Homo sapiens: one gene and its partners. The gene in region 3 interacts genetically with the main gene of each other region. Each region holds a gene or a part of one and is shown on either strand. Other genes may lie near its edges.

The links. Genes that interact genetically often act in the same process or in processes that back each other up.
Region 1: changes in CHEK1 (region 3) and PPP2R2A are lethal when combined (synthetic lethality), as found in Homo sapiens cells (one study listed by BioGRID).
Region 2: changes in CHEK1 (region 3) and ADA are lethal when combined (synthetic lethality), as found in Homo sapiens cells (2 studies listed by BioGRID, with this or other methods).

Annotation. Positions count from the first base shown.
Region 1 is NC_000008.11:26,364,501-26,371,535, reverse strand, and holds part of PPP2R2A (serine/threonine-protein phosphatase 2A 55 kDa regulatory subunit B alpha isoform), read right to left. Parts: intron 5,222-7,035; coding exon 5,130-5,221; intron 1,403-5,129; coding exon 1,123-1,402; 3' UTR 1-1,122. UniProt on the Homo sapiens protein: Substrate-recognition subunit of protein phosphatase 2A (PP2A) that plays a key role in cell cycle by controlling mitosis entry and exit. Involved in chromosome clustering during late mitosis by mediating dephosphorylation of MKI67.
Region 2 is NC_000020.11:44,620,672-44,627,706, reverse strand, and holds part of ADA (adenosine deaminase), read left to right. Parts: intron 1-1,107; coding exon 1,108-1,251; intron 1,252-2,022; coding exon 2,023-2,138; intron 2,139-3,377; coding exon 3,378-3,505; intron 3,506-4,628; coding exon 4,629-4,700; intron 4,701-4,776; coding exon 4,777-4,878; intron 4,879-5,054; coding exon 5,055-5,119; intron 5,120-6,559; coding exon 6,560-6,689; intron 6,690-7,035.
Region 3 is NC_000011.10:125,628,139-125,635,173, forward strand, and holds part of CHEK1 (serine/threonine-protein kinase Chk1), read left to right. Parts: intron 1-1,093; coding exon 1,094-1,158; intron 1,159-1,252; coding exon 1,253-1,322; intron 1,323-5,024; coding exon 5,025-5,213; intron 5,214-7,035. UniProt on the Homo sapiens protein: Serine/threonine-protein kinase which is required for checkpoint-mediated cell cycle arrest and activation of DNA repair in response to the presence of DNA damage or unreplicated DNA.

The sequences.
Region 1 (7,035 bases), on a different chromosome or scaffold from region 3:
AAATGTTTTATAAGTCTTTGACTATTTAGTAAGGCAAAAATGAAATTAAGCACTCTAAAAAGTAGAAATTAAGTTCTACAAATTTGGTTCCCATTTACAACAATTTCATTAACACATAATGAGTTAAATAGAGACACAATGTATCCAATACCCTCATGATGGTAAAAAAAAAAAAAAAAACTAGTAGCATTTATAGATTGTGAAATCCTTAATAAAACCTATATTCAAAATATGTTCATAGAGAACCAATACCTCTCCTCCTGCATGTAAAAGAACACTTGTTAAAAATAATTAACAAAAATACCAATAAACAATGAAAACCCATTTTGTTTCACTGTGCCCAAAGGTATGACACAAAATATTGGCTACAAGAGGTAGGTTAAAAAGAAAAAGAAAACCAGATTCTCCATTCTTTGTCACTTTTATTCAGTAGTAGGTTTTTTTTCCTTATTTTCAGTGCCAGACACGGCGAGGAGTGATTACAGCCAACTGTTACTAAAACATTTGTTTGCAACATATACCCCCTTTATACCACTGACCCCAAACTGACTCATTTTGTGTGCTTTCATTCTTTCTTTTTTTAATATACCACCACCAAGACCGGGTGGAGGGGGCAAGGGTAAGAGATGAAGGGGAGCAGTCCAGGAGGCCAGAAGAGGAGGAATGCTACAAGCCACAGTAAGAATGAGCTGTATTTAATTTAAAAAAAGGGGGAAGGGGTGTACCCCACAAATGATACAGTAATGAGGATACACAATTAAATCCCATAGCATGACTGAAGGCTTTCACTGTGTTTGACGTCATCACAATGGAAGGCATAAAAAGTGGAGTAAATCAATGTTGATACAGTCCAATCTAGTCCATTAGGCAAGATGGTGCAAGAAGTCATTTAAATTAAAAGTGCCCTACCCTTACCTAAATGGCTAGCAGACATGGAGAACACCACAGTGATGAATCCACAGAGCTTTCTCCATGTAGCTATAACAATGTGTTGTCGAATGGCACACTGTCAAACACTGGAAAGGGGCGCCACAATGGACCTCTCTCTTTTATAGGAACGAATGCTAGATTCAACTATCTCAACTAAGCAGGAAGTGGGTTCTTCTGCTAGGAATGCCAACCCTAATTCACTTTGTCTTGAAATATATACAGATTGTTTGTAGTAGCTACGGCAATGATATTTTCCTTGGGGTGCCAGGCTGTGTGAAGGATTTTCTTATTGAAGTCTAGGCTGTCAACACTTATTTCATCTTTCTTTCGCTTGCCACTTGCACAGACTTTGCGAGGCTTCAGAACTGTGCGAGGCTTATTGTTTTCCCGCGATGCTTCTAGGGTTATGTCTCGCTTTGTGTTTCTGTCAAACATTCTGAAGAAATTATTGTAAGATCCAGTCATGACAACACTGTGAAAATAGACAGTACACTCAGTCAAACAAGCAGAACAAGAAATTGTTTTCAAGTAAAATGATTCGGCAATTAAACCATAGGAAGCTACTTCAAAAGCAGATTTAAACTAAGGGACAGGGGCTGTTGACATCAACTCAATCACTAGAATAAACCAGAAATACGGTACTAATTAACTGGGTTTTCTGCTTATTCTTTTTATGGCTACCAAAACTATCAGCAAAGTTGACAGCATCCTCAAGTAAAACTTCTTAGGAGTGCAGAATTATCGTTGTTAAGTATTTTTGCAACTACAGGCTATGTGATCAACCAGGCCAGCCAGCTTCTCAAAGGAGCAACTATCTGTGGAACTCACAGGTTCTAAAACAAAAGAACCCCGCATGAAGTAGCTGTAGCTGTTCACAAGAAACCAATGCTTTATCTTATGATTTACATTTTTTGGGCCGGGCGCAGTGGCTCACGCCTGTAATCCCAGCACTTTGGGAGGCCAAGGTGGGCAGATCACGACGTCAGGAGATCGAGACCATTCTGGCTAACATGGTGAAACCCGGTCTCTACTAAAAATACAAAAAAAATTAGCCTGGCGTGGTGGCAGGCACCCGTAGTCCCAACTACTCGGGAGGCTGAGGCAGGAGAATGGTGTGAACCCGGGAGGTGGAGCTTGCAGTGAGCCAAGGTCGTGCCACTGCACTCCAGCCTGGGCAACTGAGCAAGACTCCGTCTCGGAAAAAAAAAAAAATTAGCTGGGTGTAGTGGCACGTGCCTGTAGTCCCAGCTACTCAGGAGGCTGAGGCAGGAGAATCCCTTGAACCCGGGAGGCGGAGGTTGCACTGAGCCAAGATTGTGCCACTGCACTCCAGCCTGGGTGACAGAGTGAGACTCTGTCTCATAAATAAATAATCTTCTCAGGGTATTGTCTGGTTCAGATAATCACATTTAATAAATGCTTATGTTATAATCTGCTCCTGAGAATATTAAGTGGTACATAATGTGTGTGTGTGTGTGTGTATAATTTTTTTTTTTTTGAGACGGAGTCTCGCTCTGTTGCCCAGGCTGGAGTGCAGTGGTGCGATCTCGGCTCACTGCAAGCTCTGCCTCCTGGGTTCATGCCATTCTTCTGCCTCAGCCTCCTGAGTAGCTGGGACTACAGGCGTCCGCCACCACGCCCGGCTAGTTTTTTTTGTATTTTCAGTAGAGACAGGGTTTCACCACGTTAGCCAGGATGGTCTCAATCTCCTGACCTCATGATCCGCCGGCCTTGGCCTCCCAAAGTGCTGGGATTACAGGCGTGAGCCACCGTGCCCGGCCTATATATATGTATTTTTCAAGACAGGGTTTCACTCTGTCACCCGGGTTGAAATGTGGTGGCACAATCACAGCTCACTGCAACCACAACCTCAACCTCCTGGGTTCAAGCAGTCCTTGCACTTCAGTCTCCTGAGTAGCTGTGACTACAGGCATATGCTGCCATGTCCAGATAATTTTTAAATATTTTGTAGAGACAGGGTCTTGCTATGTTGCCCAGGCTGTAATATTTTCTTAACAGAACATCATTTTACTTTTACCACTTAGAACATTTTAAGCAAATATTTATAAAAGTATCAGTTTAAAGGGGTGGCAAAATTTTTAAACTGCCCAAGACACTTCCTTGTCAGTTCTATTTGCCACCCATTACTGCTCGACATTTATTAAGTATCCTCACAAACAAAACTTCGTAAGTTTGAAGCTCTTAATTTGGAAAGGGTCTGCTACCGCTGCTTACCAATGGTTCAAATTATTATTGTAAATAAGGATTACAGGATACTGGGGAATTGTTCAAAGTAATACTTACATACAAAGGTCACCTACTGAGTACAAATTATTATCTATTTAGTAATGTCAATTCCCAAAGGACACTTGGCAACAACTTTAATCAAACTCAAGGTAATGCGTGCCCCTGAAGATGACAAAACTGTATTTCTTTAAAAATGGCTTGTGTAATTTAGATTGACATCCCCATATCATCTGAGTTTGCGTGGTTTTAATGTATTAGGACACCTAGGCTGTGGCTACTTGAAACTTTAAAAAGGTATCATTAGGCCAGCATTTCTGTGGTATTCCTGCCAAAAATGTATAGCCTGAATCTAATCATGAGGAAACATTCTATAAAATAACTGGCCTGTGTTCTTCAAAATGCCAAGGTCATGAAAGACAAGGAGAGACTGAGGAACTGTTTCAGAATAAAGGAGACTAACAAGAGATGACAACTAAATGCTGGATACTGAACCAGACTGACTTTGTTCTGTGCCATAAAGGACATAGTTACAGTAACTGGTCAGTTTCAGTGGGTCTCCGGATTAGATGGCAGTACTGCATCGCTGTGAATGTTGCTTTGGATGCTGCACTGTCACTATGTTGGAAAGTGTTTTTGTCAGGAAATACTCATTCAAGAATTTAGGGTTATGGGCATCACATCTGGCGTAAATGGAATAAATTCCCATGTGGCACACAAGTTGCATGTGAGCACATGCGCACGTACCTATGTGGACAAATATAGCTATAAATAAACAGAGAATAGAACACGTGATACAGCAAACAGCGACAGGGGAACCTGGGTCAAGGCCAGCCAAGAGTTCTTTGTGTTATTCTAACAAATTTTCTCTAAGTTTGAAATAGTTAAAAAAAAATTTTTAATATTAAGGAAAACAAATCGTTTTTTTCTGATAATAGAACATAAAACTGCTAATTATCTGCTTAAATACAATGAAAAACTGGTTGTAGCTGTGCGCCACACCTTATTTCAGTATCTCTTTACTCTTCAAATTTGTTAATCTTTTTTTTCTTCTTCCCTTTCCTTCTTTCTTCTTGATGCCTCAGGTTTAGTAGTAGCACTCAAAGGCAATGTTTGCTATTAACAGAACTCTAGGTTTACTAGTCCTTATGTCAAAAATCAGATAATTTTAAAAGCCAGATGAAAGAAAACATTCTATAAGTTCTATTATCCTCTGTAACACACAACACCATGAAATCGGAATCATATTAAGCTCTGTGATAAAACTGTTGTTGAAGTATCTCTGATTACTTTAAATGTCAGTTTAATTCCAAAATTATGTTTTACTACTTTCTGTTCTACTGGAACATAGTGGCAAATAGACAACTAAAAGACTCAAAGTAAGACTTATTTTATCTTTAAATAATGGGTAACATTTTACTAAAAATGAATACGAAAAAGGAATTACACTACGGCAAAACTGGAAATTATAAAAAGCAAAGGATAACTACTACTAAAATTTTAACCATATATATTATGGTTAACATCATACATAACATACATATGAAAGACCACTTCTATGAGGTGTTAATGTAGCATCTGGAAAACCTGGTGTTTCTAACAATCCAAATGAGTTATCTGCCGCCTGAATGTTTCTGCAACAGTTTAATGGAAGAATAACAACCAAGCTGAAGCTTCACCGTTTTAATGGTTAGCATGTCAGAAATGTGATCTGGTTCATAAAAGAAAAAAAATTCTAGACATTTAAATAATTTAGATTACCTAGAATTTGTGTACTTTTATATTTACTAGTGAAATACAATGCTTTAATTTTTTATCTACCAGTACTGCTGTGCTATATCTAAAATTACTAAATTTATTTCAAGGAATCCCTAGAGACGAAGTTAGGACCTGGAATGAAATAGTTGTTTCTTTTCTTTAATAAAATTCATATTTGAGAGGTTTGACTTAATTACCTGTCAGATCCATTCCAACAACATTCAAATTTGTCAAATATGCAGTCATTTTCATACAGTGAACAGAGTTTACTTCTGAGGTATTCATGCACCTGGGGGAAAAATACAAATATACTGCACTGAAATTAGGAAAATGATTTAACAAGTCCATATCTTTAAAAAGAAAAAAAGGGCATATACAGACACATACACACACCTTTTAAACCTATTAATCTCAATCTTCTCAGTAACAATAAAGGCATTTTGTCCTTTTACAAAACACACAAGCCCTTCAGGGAGGTACATTTTCCTACTGGTATGACAAAGGAAAACTCCATTCTGGGCATGGCACACATAGCCTTTATAAGCCTGAATAAAACATTCAGGCCAAAAACACTTGAAAATGGCACAGTTAAGAGACTAATAAAAGAACATTATAGCAATATCTGAATATCACTATTCTTGGCTTTCAGTCCATTAACTACTGATAACAACACTGAAACTGTGCCTATTTCTTTCTTAAATACCATTTTCTGGGCATAAATTTAACTGAAGCCTATATTTTCCATTATAAATGCACATGTATGCATAGCGTAACCATGCCTTGGTTTGGTGATAAATTATATGGTTATTCTGGGCATATATTATTAAAAATTTGATAGTATCATATTATACAATGTCAAAAGCTAACAAAGCTGTGCCTGTTTTTTGAATTATATAATTCTGTATTTACTAATATGTCAAAAAAGGATAAACTAGAAATCTCATATTTAAAAAGTCTGAGAAATATGACATATTTCAACATTAATATTAATTACAAACAAAAGTTCCAAAGTATTTGTTGTAACTCAAAGGAAAAAAGGAAGTGTCTATATTTCACCATCTCTTTTTAAGGAGCTACTTAAGGAGAAATGACAGAAATGAGAAGGTACCTTCTAAATGCTTAGAATTCTCTATTCTATATGAAACAATCTAAACTTATTTTCAGTGTCTATTTTAACTTTAAATATAGTGGAATGATTCAGGCCATGTCTCTGTGACATTAAGTGAAAATCTGTAATACAGAGGAATAGCAACTCATGTGGGGTTAGGATCAAAAGTGAGCATGTAACACAAAAAAATCAGTAAGAAAAAAATACCCTTCAATCACACAAAACTTGGCAAGATGCTGGTACAAATTCAATAAAAATAGTTTTATCTATATATGATACATTTGCCTATAATGTGACTACTTTTAATCACTACTCCAACTGTTTATAAGTAGAAAAGTAGCAAATCAGGTAAAATTAGGTAGATTATCATAATTTAGCAACATTTTAGAATGCACATTATAGAGTTTCTCACTATACATCAGTATGAAGCTAAGCTTCAAATCAATTCTTCTCAATGGGAATGAAATGATGGTGAGGGTAACTAGGAGATATATCAATCTTGGCAGTTACACAAATAGAAGTCTTTTTTCAGTATACACGAGGGATGGGTTCCAAGAACCCCAGGTATACCCAAATCTGCAGTTAGCCCTGCGGAACCCACACGTGAAGTTTTGGCCCTCCATATATTTGAGGGGTTTGCATCCCTCAAATATTGTATTTTCAAATGTGCATTGGTTGAACAAAACAAAACAAAAAATCTGTGTATGAGTGAACCCATGCAGTTCAAATCCATGTTGCTCAATAGTGAACTATACTTTGAAAAGCAAAGCAGTATTTTGTCTTTTGTTTCAGTGCAGTATTTATTTTGAAATTTCACGTATCAAAAACAATCTTCGTTTATGTTTGTCAGAGGATTTAAAGTTTGAGAAACATACTTCCCAGTCTATTGAGAATATATAACATAAAGAAAGTATATGTATAAATTAGAGTTAAGTGATTTCAACACTGCAGTCTAGGGCCTAGCACAGGTTTGTGCTGTCCCTCACCCTGTTCCA
Region 2 (7,035 bases), on a different chromosome or scaffold from region 3:
CAACAAATATTGGGCTACTCTGTCCTAGGCATGGTCCTCAGCTGAGAGGTCGCAGCCATCCCAAGACAGAGGGGTCCTTGCCACATGGAGACTGCATTCTAGTAGGGAATACAGCAAACTGGCTGATAAGCCATATGACACACAATGTTGAGTAGTGATAAGGACCTGGGAGAAAAAGAAAGCCCAGGAGAATGGTGGAGGGGCCGTTTTAAGATAAGGCGGTCTGGGCCAGGTACAGTGGCTCACGCCTGTATCCCCAGCACTTTGGGAGGCTGAGGTGGGCGGATCATGAGGTCAGGAGATCGAGACCATCCTGGCTAACACAGCGAAACGCTGTCTCTACTAAAAATACAAAAAATTAGCCGGGCGTGGTGGCATGCGCCTGTAATCCCAGCTACTTGGGAGGCTGAGGCAGACGAATCACTTGAACCCAGGAGGCAGAGGCTGCAGTGAGCTGAGATGGCGCCACTGCACTCCAGCCTGGGCGACAGAGCAAGATTCTGTCTCAAAAAAAAAAAAAAAAGATAAGGTGGTCAGGGAAGGCCTCTCTGAGGAGGTGAAGCTTCAGCTGGCTCTAAACCAGGGGAGCGGGAGAGACGCAGTGTAGGACAGTATCGGGGAAGAGCAGGCCTGTGTCTTCTCCGGTGGCCTCAGGGAATGAGGGAGAAGGAAGGTGCTGGGGAGGCTGGCAAGGCCTGGAGGATGCAGGCCTTGTGGGCAGGACCTGGGAGTTGCGATGTCACTCTCCGTGGCAGGAAGCTACTGGGGCTTCGAGGGGAGAAGTGATATGCTTTGATTTACCTTCTTAAAAGATTGCCCCAACTGCTGGGTGGAGAACAGGATGACAGGGGCAAGCATGGAGACAGGGAGGCCAGTTAGAGATGGCGTGATTCAGGCCAGGATGGAGGGGTGAGAACTGGTATGCAGTTCCAAAGTAGAGCTGATAGGACTTGCCCAGTGTCTGGGATCTTATCCAGTGGATGCCCAGAGCTTGGGTCTGGGGGATGAAGTGGGTTTAATCTGCCAAGGGTTGGGGATGTCATTTGCTCCTGGAGCTCCCAAGGGACTTGGGGAAGGTTGTTCCCAACCCCTTTCTTCCCTTCCCAGGGGCTGCCGGGAGGCTATCAAAAGGATCGCCTATGAGTTTGTAGAGATGAAGGCCAAAGAGGGCGTGGTGTATGTGGAGGTGCGGTACAGTCCGCACCTGCTGGCCAACTCCAAAGTGGAGCCAATCCCCTGGAACCAGGCTGAGTGAGTGATGGGCCTGGAAGGGGCCATGCTGAGGGTGTGGCTGGGAGGCTCAGCTCTGAGACTGGAAGGGCGAACTGCTGGGAATCCCTGACCCAAGCAAGACCTTGTTCTTGCCCCCAGTCTGGTCCATGGCCTCAGAAAGATGGGTTTAACTCTGTCACAAGAGACGTGGTTCCCATCCTCCCTTTGCCGTTATGTTCTTACCTTGGGCACAAGTGTTTGGCTGTGTCTTGCTCTGGCCACAGGCCTGCTGTCCAGGAATGTTAACCTGCTTAGCCACCCAGGATTTCTGAGGGGTCTCCCTTGTCACTGATGCTGATCAGATCTCTAAAGGCCCTAAAGGTCCTGCTCTAACTTCATAACTGAAGTGAGTCTGGCCCATTTCTAGCCCCCTGCCTGGGCCCCCATGGATCTCTAAGTGGTATCACAAAACCACCCTGCCCCATTTTCTGAGCCATGATTCTGATACATATAGAATGTGAACATCATGGCAGGCCCAAGCTTAGCAATGCTGTCCATCTGGGGGTGGGGAGGGCCATGTTGACACCCCACACCTCCCACTAAGATCTAGGAGCACCCAGCTGCTTTAAGAGCTAGAGGGACATGCTAGGGCCTGGGGGCATCTCTGCCAGTCTTTCCTCTGAGGCAGTGGGTCAGTGGGGGAGGAGGGTCCTCCCCAAAGCCTCCTCTTCCTCCTCTGTCCCAGTCCCAGAGCTGCCCTTTAGGCCTTCCTTTTGCCTCAGGCCCATCCCTACTCCTCTCCTCACACAGAGGGGACCTCACCCCAGACGAGGTGGTGGCCCTAGTGGGCCAGGGCCTGCAGGAGGGGGAGCGAGACTTCGGGGTCAAGGCCCGGTCCATCCTGTGCTGCATGCGCCACCAGCCCAGTGAGTAGGATCACCGCCCTGCCCAGGGCCGCCCGTCTCACCCTGGCCCTGACCTCCTGGCCTAGCAGTGGGGCTGTACCTGATCTCCCCTGTGCCCCACAGCCCCATGGTGTCCCCTTGAGCCCACTGGCATGAACTTGGGGCTTCATGAAACAACTGGAGACCTCCTAGGCAGGCTCAGAACTTCTGGAGATGTTCTCCCCAGGGACACCATGCCTTTATAGCCACCCTGCAGGAAGCTCAACACCAAATAGGAACGTAACTATTGAAAAAAAAATCTAGGCTAGATTCTGATCAGCCCATAGTCCTCCCTCGAGACCCAGTGGACCAGGCCCCATCCTGTCTGGGCCTGAATAGGTCTGATTTCCAAGATTTCTGAGGGGTCTCCCTTGTCACTGACGCAGATCAGATCTCTAGAGTTTGTGCCTCATGGTGCACAGCCTCACTGTGTGATATTGGGCAGGTCACACTGCTGCTCTGGTTATGCACCAAGACACCTCAGTTGTGCACTGTCACAAGGAGATGATCACACTTACTTCATTCCTCTACCCTCAGGATTAGTAAGAACCAAAGAGCTACCTGCACGCATTTCCTCTAATCCTCGCAGCAGCCTGCAAAGCAGAACTACCATTGCTTAGTCCCATTTGACAGATGAGGAAACTGAGGTGGAGTGAGGTGCAGCCTCTTGCAAGGCACAAACCCTGGATTTGTATCCGGGGACATCTAGTTCCAAAGCCTGTGTTCATTCATTCTTTCTTAAACACTTCAGAATAACTTTATTGGTTAAGAGTACCTAATACATTAGCGAGATACTTCCCAATACTAGTGTGAGTTCTATTTTAGATGACGTGTTAAACGGTCCTCCGTTTCCTCATCTGCGCATGGGAATAAGCCTACCATGAGTGTTGTTGGAAACACCAGGTGAGAGAAGGGTCCGTGTCATTTACTGAGCTCAGGCCCCGTCCTTGGTGCTTTACACACATGGCCTCGGCAAAGCCTGGCCGTGACCCTGTGCAATAGCTGGCAGGGTTCTTTCTGAAAAGGGCGGAAACTGAGGCCATAAGCAGAGCAGTTTTCCGCAGGCCATGTGGTTAGGACATAGCAGTTAGGATTTGAAGACACTGAGCCCTGTTTTGTGCTGGCCTCCCATGGGGGGTTTGGGTGGGACAGCAGGCAGGTAGGCTGGGAGGTCTCTCCATGGTGCTGGTGACAGAGCCTGGGTGGGCATCTCGCCCACAGACTGGTCCCCCAAGGTGGTGGAGCTGTGTAAGAAGTACCAGCAGCAGACCGTGGTAGCCATTGACCTGGCTGGAGATGAGACCATCCCAGGAAGCAGCCTCTTGCCTGGACATGTCCAGGCCTACCAGGTGGGTCCTGTGAGAAGGAATGGAGAGGCTGGCCCTGGGTGAGCTTGTCTCCCACCCATAGTTGGGAGAAATCACAAGAACCAGGGACCATGGTGTCTCCTGAGTTCTGAAGTGTGTCTTTGTTGGGTCTTAAGGCTTGGAACTGGAATCCCCCTGGGCCAGGCGTGGTGGTTCATGCCTGTGATCCCAGCACTTTGGGAGGCGAGGCAGGAGGATTGCTTGAGCCTAGGAGTTTGAGACCAGCCAGGGCAACATAGTGAGATCCATCTCTGCAAATACAAAAAAAAGTAGTCAGGCATGGTGGTGCATGCCTGTAGTCCCAGCTACTTGGGAGGCTGAGGTGGGAGAATTGCTTGAGTCCAGGAAGTCAAAGCTGCAGTGAGCTGTGATAATGCGACTGCACTCCAGCCTGGGTGACAGAGGGAGACCCTGTCTCAAAAAAAAAAAAAAGGAAGAAAGAAGAAAGAGAAAAGAAAGAGAAAGAAAGAGAGGAAGGAAGGAAAAAGAGGAAGGGAGGGAGGGAGGAAGGAAGGAAAGAAGGAAGGAAGGGAGAGAGAAAGAAAAGCCTCCACTTGGTGTTGGGAGTCCTGTGCTGAGCCTGCTTCTGGCTGTGATTTGCTGTGTGAACCTGGGCAACACTGTGTCTTCTCTGGGCCTCTGTTTCTTCTATTGGGATGACTGAGTTGGAGCCGACATCTCAAAAGTCGCTTCCAGCGTGATGATGAATGGGCCTCCTGTGGAGGGTGCAGCATGGTGGAGAAGTCAGGGCTCTGGAGTCCCACTGCCCGGGCTCAGAGCTTGGTTCCACACTTCCTGTCTGACCTTGGTCACATTACTTGAATCTCCTGAGCTTCAGTCCTTCATCATAAAATGGGTGGGATAATAGTTGTGAATATTAGATAATGTATACAAGTCACTTCATATACTACCTGACACATGGTAACTGGCTAATGAGTGACAGCTACCACTTAGATAAGGACTTGGAGGGTAAAAGACCAGGTTTCCCCATGCTGTTGAAGCAGGCAGCATGACTAGGATGGTTCAATCTCCACAGCATGGTCAAGGCAGGGCCTGCCGGGGCCCTCCCGCTAGGGCACCCATGACCTGGCTCTCCCCCTTCCAGGAGGCTGTGAAGAGCGGCATTCACCGTACTGTCCACGCCGGGGAGGTGGGCTCGGCCGAAGTAGTAAAAGAGGTGAGGGCCTGGGCTGGCCATGGGGTCCCTCCTCACTGCCTCCTCCCATACTTGGCTCTATTCTGCTTCTCTACAGGCTGTGGACATACTCAAGACAGAGCGGCTGGGACACGGCTACCACACCCTGGAAGACCAGGCCCTTTATAACAGGCTGCGGCAGGAAAACATGCACTTCGAGGTAAGCGGGCCAGGGAGTGGGGAGGAACCATCCCCGGCTGTCCCAACTTCCTGTATAGAGAGGCAGAAAGCAGGGCGGGTCCCAGGAACTCGAGGGGTGGCCCCAGGCCCAGACATGGGGGGAGGAATCAGCATGGCCTGGGGCCATCCCTGCCAGCCACACACCTGCTCTTCCAGATCTGCCCCTGGTCCAGCTACCTCACTGGTGCCTGGAAGCCGGACACGGAGCATGCAGTCATTCGGTGAGCTCTGTTCCCCTGGGCCTGTTCAATTTTGTTCCAGGAAGGCCAAAGAGGGAAGAAACTTTAGGGATTGGGCATCAGCCCATGCCGCGTCTTTTAGATATGAAATCTCTTCGACACCCTGGGAAGCAGGCATTGCCGTCCTCATCTTACAAATGAGGAATCCGAGGCCCAGATGTGCTGTGGCTTGACTGGGATTACCCAGCTGCTAACCAGCAGAGCTGGGGCCCTACAGCTCATCAGCTGGAGCAGAACGCTCCATTACTCTGAGGGAAGCTTCCACACTTCCAATTCTCCCAACTCTGCCCCCTGGGCATCGCATAGGAAGCAGGAGTCCCTCTGGCCAGCATGTTCTCTCTTCCTGACACCTGGCCCTTGGGACCCCTGGGCATTCCCCTGAGCGCCATCTTGAAGCTTTCCACCGGAGGGTCTGTTCCACCCTGCCTGGCTCCCATCCTGGAGTCTAACCAGGGTCAAGGCCCTCCTTCCGTCCTGTCGCCAAGCCACAGGAGCAGTATCAGGCCTTAGGAAAAAGCCGCCTTCCCCAAGACAAGGACAGCAAGAACTCAGGGTGACCATGGTCAGGCCAGCACTTATCCATCTGCCAGGCATATGAGAAGGGGAGGGGCTTCGGCTCTGATGTTCTGATGACAAGGGGGTCTTGGGGCTTGCCTTAGGGACACGTGGCACCTGTGGAGGTTCTTGGAGGCATGTGGGTATACCATGGGCTGGAAAAAGATCCAGGAGTCATCTGCACAGATATGGTGGCTGAAGGAGAAGCAGTGGCCCCAGGAGGTGGTGGAGCAAGAAGGGCCTAGGATAGAACCCAGAAGGACAATGGTATTTAAGGGACCAGCAAAAGAGACAAGTAGGAGGAAAGTCAAAAGTGTGGTGTCACAGAAATCCAGGGAAAAGGTTTCAAGAAACAGTCAACAGTGTGAAATTCTGCTATGCAAGTCGATTATGGTCAGAGCTAGGAAAGATCCATTAGATACAACAAGATGGTGGTCAGGGATCGTGCCAAGAACAGCTTCCATGGTATGTTGGAGTAGCCAGCTCCCAGTGGGACTGAGGAACAAGCAGGGTAGGGTGCAGAGGGGAAGGCTGGAGAGGGTGGCAGCCGGAGGGGGATGTTGCTTTCTTGGCTCCCACCCCCACGCCCCCACCGGCTGCCATTCTGCCTGGTTCCCATGTCTGGCCCCTCTGCTGCCTTTGCCCAGCTCTGGTCTTCAGGATGGGCTGGATTCTGGACTTTCTGGTTACATAGACTTGAACAAGTCACCTAAGTTCTGAATTTATTTCCCCCTCTGCACAAGGATCAGATCTTTCAGATCTGTTTGAGGCTGCTGTGAGGATCAAAGGCGGGTGAACGTCAATGTGTTCTGACTATTTATGTAAGAGTAAAAGGAGGCTGATTCTCTCCTCCTCCCTCTTCTGCAGGCTCAAAAATGACCAGGCTAACTACTCGCTCAACACAGATGACCCGCTCATCTTCAAGTCCACCCTGGACACTGATTACCAGATGACCAAACGGGACATGGGCTTTACTGAAGAGGAGTTTAAAAGGCTGGTGAGTGGGTGTGAGCCATACTGGCCTTGACTCGGGTTTGGGAGTATGGTATCTACAGGTCCAGTCCGGGGCCTGGAATCTTTGGAGAGAGGGAGTGAGTCTGCCTCAACAGTCCAAGACAAGCCCAACCTAGACACTTTCCACAGAGAAGACATCTTTGTGTTGACGTCCTGACCTAGGACCAGGTTTTTGATCCTTTGCTTGGGTTGAGTGCCTTTAAAGAATCCAGTGAAAGCTGTCAACCCTCTCCCCAGAAAGGTGTGTGCAGCAGCTATGAAGTCTTGCACACTCTCTTCAGGTTGTTCTTAAATCCCAGGCTGAATAAGTCCATTCCTGCACGTGTCTG
Region 3 (7,035 bases):
ATTGCCTACACAATTTTTTCTTTGTAGACATTCTAGTTACATGAAATCATTGTATACATTTTATACATTTACAGATCTAAAATAGCATGCTGTTTCCTCTTGGTTTACATGAAATAATTGAGAATTTTCTAGGATTGCTTTTTGTATATTAAGTAAATTCTATGTTTGCTATTAATACTTAAATATTCGATGTAGAATCAAAGGATTGATATTTCAGAACACTGAGAAGTACATAAAATCTGGATCTAAATTTATAATTTAAATTTATAATTTAAAGCTATTGTATTAAATAAGTTTATCAGTTAAAAACTGATAAAGAGGTATTAGGATCTCCAGTGTGACTCAGGAGAGAGTTGAGGGTAAAAGAAATGGAGTTAATGAGAGAGATCAAAATATAAAAAGATAACTGATAAAAGAACTTTCATAATAAAACTGTTTCACGAAGGACCTCACAGGCATTTGTGGTTTTGTACTGTGAGACTATATGAAGTTTAAATCTGAGCCAGGTGTGGTGGTACATGCCTGCAATCCTAGCTACTTAGGAGGCAGGAGGATTGCTTGAGCTCAAGAGTTCCAGGTTACAGTAAGTTATGATCTCACGCCAGGGCACTCCAGCCTGGGTGAAAGAACAAGACCGTATCTCTAAAAAAAGTTAAATTATAAAAGAAGTATAATCTGTAAAATATTTAGTGAAATTGGCTTAGATTTGCCCAGACTTCCCCTTTGGCATTATATTTCAGGAATGAGAAAAATAATTAGCATAGCATTTAGAAGAAATGGGGGGAATTTCAAGGTTACTAAATAAATCAGGGTTAGTATAAGAGGAAGCAGAGGCTTTGAAGTCATGGCTTGCATTCTTGATTTGGATATTGGTTTTCTCTTTATAATTTTTCTGTGATGACGCCTTTTGCCACCTAACACAGGTAAATGTGAGTTAAGCCCCATATGTGTTAGTGGACTCCTGAATCTTTTGTTGGCATTTGCTTCTGTTTGCCTAAGCACATTTGTAAATGTCTAAGCTTCAAATTAAGAAGCTATGTGGTTGCTACCTGATTATATTTAGTCAATAAACTTACTTTCATATTTGTTTTAGAGCCAGACATAGGCATGCCTGAACCAGATGCTCAGAGATTCTTCCATCAACTCATGGCAGGGGTGGTAGGTATAGTTGTCTATTTCCCTTTTACTTAAAATTAGAGTGAATACATTACATTACCAAATTCTAGTGTGTTTCTCTCTGCATCCCTCTTAGGTTTATCTGCATGGTATTGGAATAACTCACAGGGATATTAAACCAGAAAATCTTCTGTTGGATGAAAGGGGTAAGTTTAGCATTTTATCACTACCTAAAATAAAATAAAATAATTACCTAAATTATTTTAATTACCTAATTATTTTAATATAGCCATACAAGGCAAAATCAAGTCTTTTTGCATTACTGGAATTTCAAGACAAGATCTGAAAAATCAAGGAAATTTTGGAGACTTCGTATATTTGGAAATCACAAGTCTCATTTTGCAATACAAGTGCGGATCAGGTAGAGAAATCTGACCTAGGTGCAAGCCTAGCTCACTATATGTATAAGAATAATTTTTTTTTTTTTGATACAGGCTCACTGTGTTGTCCAGTCTGGGGTGCACTGTATTATCACAGTTCACTGCAGCCTTGACCTCCTAGGCTCAAGCAATCCTACCATCTCAGCTTCCCGAGTAGCTAGGACCAACCACAGGCAGGTGCCACCATGCCTGGCTAATTTTTGATTTTTTGAAGAGGTGGAGTCTTCCTGTGTTGCTCAGGCTAGTCTTGAACTCCTGGACTCAAGCAGTTTACCAGCCTTAGCCTCCCAGAGTGTTGGGATTATAGACGTGAGCCACCATGCCTGGCCAAGAATAGTTTAAAATAATCCTTTAATGGATTAATAAAGGGAAGTTCCTGTGGAATACCCTGGACCTTAGTCTTGTCCTGTTCACTCTTTTTTTATGTATGACGTGGATAAAAATGTAAGAAATTTAGTTATATTTTCTGAATGTCATCAAATTGAGAAGGATGGATAGCGAAAGCTTTAAGCTTACAGGGTCAGAATCAAAAAAGAAATGTCAGCTGTATGAGGCAGTAGTTTTTGTCTGGTTTAATGCTTTATTCTTAGTATTAGAATAGTGCTTAACAAATGGTCAGCTTTTTTTTTTTTTTGAAACAGAGTCTTGCTGTGTTGCCCAGGCTGGAGTGTAGTGACATGATCTCGGCTCACTGTAACCTCTACCTCTCTGGTTCAGGTGATTCTTGTGCCTTAGGCCCCTGAGTAGCTGGGATTACAAGCCTGAGTCACCACACCTGGCTCATTTTTATATTTTTAGTAGAGATGGGGTTTTGTCATATTGGCCAGGCTGGTCTCGAGCTCCTGGCCTCAAGTGATCTGCCTCCCTTGGCCTCCCAGAGTGCTGGGATTATAGGTGTGAGCCGCTGTACCCAGCCTATACATGCTTTTTTCTTATGTGCATATGGATTTTACTTTTTACCCCTTTAAACTGAGTTTATATGACATAAAAATCTTTATTTTTATTTAAAACTTTAAAAATTCAGGTACACAAAAATTCTTATGTATTATAATGAAATGTAAATATATGTATATCAACCCACCTGGTTTAAAAATACAACATTATTCGTATATAAGAATGCTCACAGTGGTGATGTTTTTAATATAGCAGGAAACTAACCCAAATGTCTGTCAACAATAAATTATGAAATGCATGGCTTTTCAAGCCATGTCACAAGCAGTGACACAAGCATGTCACAAGCAGTGACATGGATGAATTTCAGGTATATAATGATGTAGAGCAAAAAGAGACAGTTGCAAAAGAATTCATATGGTCTGATTCTGTTTATACAAAGTTCAAAAATATGTAAAACCTAGTATATTGTTCAAGTATGTAAACATGGAGAAAAAAACATGCAGAAAAGCAAGGGTATAATAAAACCAAATTCAGAATGGTCTAAGAAAGTAGGGGAGGGAATGTATTTAAGGAAGTATTTAAAGATTTCAAAGGAAATAGAGCATTGTTTTTCTAAAGTGAGTGGGTGTTTATTACATTGTTATTCTTTATATCTTGTATTAATATACAAGATATAATTCTTTGTTTCTATTTAATATTTAGGAGTCTTTTAAAAAAAGAAATAAAATGTTACCAGTATTTAATGTCCTCCTGTTTATTTCATCACAAATATATTCTTCCTTTGTTTTTCTAAGAGCTAAACACATTCCTACATTTAAATTTTATTATGTGCAGTTCTCTAACATAGCTGAGTATTATGTTGCAGACATAACAAAGTCCAAGGAATACTATAGTTATCCATTAGTATTTTAAGTGATTACTACTCATAAGTAATTTGAAACTCAATCTCAGTGGTTTGTCCAATAGTGTCATATTTAACTACTGAAAAGATAATCAACTGGGTGCAGTAGCTCATGCCTGTAATCCCAGAGGCTGAGGTGGGACGATTGAGTGATTCTAGGAGTTTGAGACCAGCCTAGACAACATAGACCCTGTCTTTATGAAAAATTAAAAAAAAAAATTAGCTAGACATGGTGGTGCACACCTGGAGTCCCAGCTACTTGGAAGGCTGAAGCAGGAGGATTGATCACTTCAGCCTAGGAGGTCAAGGCTGCAGTAAGCTGTGATCACATCACTACACTCTAGTCTGGGCAGCAGAGTGAGACACTTTCTCAAAAAAAAAAAAAAAAAAAAAAAAAAAGGGTAATCACAGTAGCTACCTCCTAAGTCAGATAGAGGTAAACATTTCATTGGTTTACATATTGTGTGAATGTACTTGATTTTTAAAGAAATCAGTCCCCTATTTTGAGACATTTAAGTTGTTTCTAACTTATAAAATAGGACAGTGATGGCTTCTATCAATTTGTGTAAAAGGCCAATATAAAAATTGCGTCATGCTATAATATTTTTTATGCTATAATATTTTTTATGCCATTAGCCTTTTTGTCCCACTTACACACTATTTCATGTTAGTATGTATAGATATACCTTGTTGATTGTTTTCAAAACCTACCTCCACATTTTCCATTGTACAAATTTGGACATTTATTTACAAATAATATTGCTATGAATATTCTTATGTTTATGAATTTGTGGGATTATTTCTATGGATATAGAAGTGGGAATTGCTAGTTCAAAGAGTGAATGTTTCACAGTTTAGTATGTTTTGCCAAATTGCCCTCTGATAATAGAGGGCCTTTTCTAACTCTTAAGACTGGGTTACATTCCTTTGCTCTAAGATCCTATAGTGCTCTATATTTTTATAACCTTCATAACAGTTTTCTATTGTCAGTCTTCACTAATTTATCTATTACCTGCATTGGCTGGCATAGTGTCTGTCACTAAGTTACAGTAGATATTCACTAAACATAAGTTAAGTCCTGCCTGCAGTTTTTGTGTGTTGAAGATGGGAAGTTAGGGTGGAAGTTGGGTCTTCTGATATTTTTTTTTTGTACAGAGTTTGTCCTCTTTTTCTCAGACTCTCTACTTTGAAGAAAAAAATTACTGTGGTTTGTTGAATTTTGGTGTGTCTTCACATATTTTCTTCTGCCAACTGGGTTTGTTTGCTGCTGAGAAAGTTGTGCCTAACATACTACTGATGTTTCCTTCCTGCCCTCCACCCTACCTGATGAGGGGCCTTGCTTTACTTTCATCTCAGGTTTAGAGTGCTCTTTTCCAGAAGGGCAGCCCCTTCTGACTCCAGCCTCTTTCTTTAATCTGGTCCAGACTGTTCTGTGTGTTGATAATACTTCTTTTAAGTTAATAGAAGAGGTGAGGCCTTTTTCTACTTTTAGCATAGATGATGATTTATTTTATTTTTTTAAATTTCTTTTTGTCTATTTTGCTTATTTTAAGAGAAGTTCTACAAACCTTAAGTAACACCAGTGATTTTTTTTCAGTAAAACTTAATTCCTGTAAGTATATCTATTTGCAAAACATTTTTATTCAGTGTCATCTTTTTTTCTTTTGGTTTAGATAACCTCAAAATCTCAGACTTTGGCTTGGCAACAGTATTTCGGTATAATAATCGTGAGCGTTTGTTGAACAAGATGTGTGGTACTTTACCATATGTTGCTCCAGAACTTCTGAAGAGAAGAGAATTTCATGCAGAACCAGTTGATGTTTGGTCCTGTGGAATAGTACTTACTGCAATGCTCGCTGGAGGTAAGAGCTATTTAATCATGGTAAAACTCCTATAAAAAGTCAGATTAGTTATACTGAAATAAATGAAATAAACCAAGGAATTCATGTTTATATAATAGTTTTTGTTTTCTTTTTTAAGAGACAGGGTCTCACTCTTGGCCAGACTGGAGTACAGTGAGCTGTTATAGCTCACTGCAGCCTCAAACTTCTAGGCTCAAGCAATCCTCTGGCCTCACTCTTCCAAGTAGCTAGGACCAGTGGTGCCTGCCACAAGACATCTGGCTAAGTTTTAAAAATTCATTGTAGAGATGGGATCTTGCTGTGTTGTCCAGGCTGGTCTTAAACACCTGGTCTCAAGCAAGCCTTCTGTCTTGGTCTCCAAACTGTTAGGATTAAAGTAAAGACATGAGCCATGGTACCCAGCTTTTATAGTAGTATTTTAATAGTGTCTTGATCGGTTTGGTAACTGCTGTAACAAAGTATCATAGACTGCATAGCTTATAAACAGCAAATTTATTTCTCACAGTTCTGGAGGCTGAAAATATGAGATTAGGGGTGCCAACCTGGTCATGTTTTAGTGAGGGCCCTCTTCCTGATTTGCAGATGGCTGTCTTGCTGTGCTCTCTCATGGTGGACAGCCAAGAGAGCAGAAGCAAGCTCTATTGTGGTTTTTTTTTTTTTTTTTAGACCAGAGTCTTGCTCTGTCACCCACGCTGGAGTACAGTGATGTGATCTCAGCTCACTGCAACCTCTGCCTCCCAGGTTCTAGCAATTCTGTCCCAGGCTCCCAAGTAGCTGGGATTACAGGCATGCATCATCACACCCGGCTAATTTTTGTATTTTGAGTAGAGACAGGGTTTCACCATGTTGGCCAGACTGGTCTCAAACTCCTGACCTCAAGTGATCCCCCAACCTCAGCCTCCCAAAGTGCTGTTTTTTGGGTTTTTTGTTAAATGACCAGATGTTGTGAGATATTGTGTCTGTTTTTTGTTTTTTTGTGGTTTTTTTTGAGACAGGGTCTCACTCTATTGCCCAGGCTGGAGTGCAGTGGCACAATTCAAGGCTCACTGCAGCCTTGAGCTCCCAGGCTCAAGCGATCCTCCTGCCTCAGTCTCCTCAGTATCTGGGTCTACAGGCGTGCACCACCACACCTGGCTAATTTGTTGTGGGTTTTTTTTCACAGACGGTCTCTCCATGTTACGTAGGCTGGTCTTAAACTCCTGGGCTCAAGTAATCTGCCTACCTAAGCCTCCCAAAGTGCTGGGATTATATAATTAGTGCCCTATAAAGATACAATATTGTCCGGGCACACAAGCCCTTATTAGACATTAATAAGCTCTTAATAAGAGCACTAATACCATTTTTTGAGTGGTCCCATCACCAGGACCTAATTACGTCTCAAAGGCCCCACCTCCGAATGCCATTGCATTATGAGTTAGGATATCAACATGACTTTTGAGGGGGATACAAATATTTAGCACATTGCAAATAGTAACTTATTTATAATCCCAAAGATTTTTTAAGCTAAGGCATGCATAGTTATTAAATATCACAACACTTATCTCTCCTGTGTATCATGTAAACATTTGTGAAAACAAGACTAGGGCAAGAAATGATTCATCTGTTTTTTGGTTTTTTTTTTTTTGAGACAAAGTCTTGCTCTGTCGCCCAGGCTGCAGTGCAGCAGTGTGATCTTGGCTCACTGCAGTCTTGACCTCTTGGGTTCAAGTGATCCTCTCACTTTAGCCTCCTGAGGAGCCAGGACTACAGATGCACACCATCACGCCCAGCTAATTTTATTTATTTTTTGTAGAGATGGGGTCTCACTATGTTGCCCAGGCTG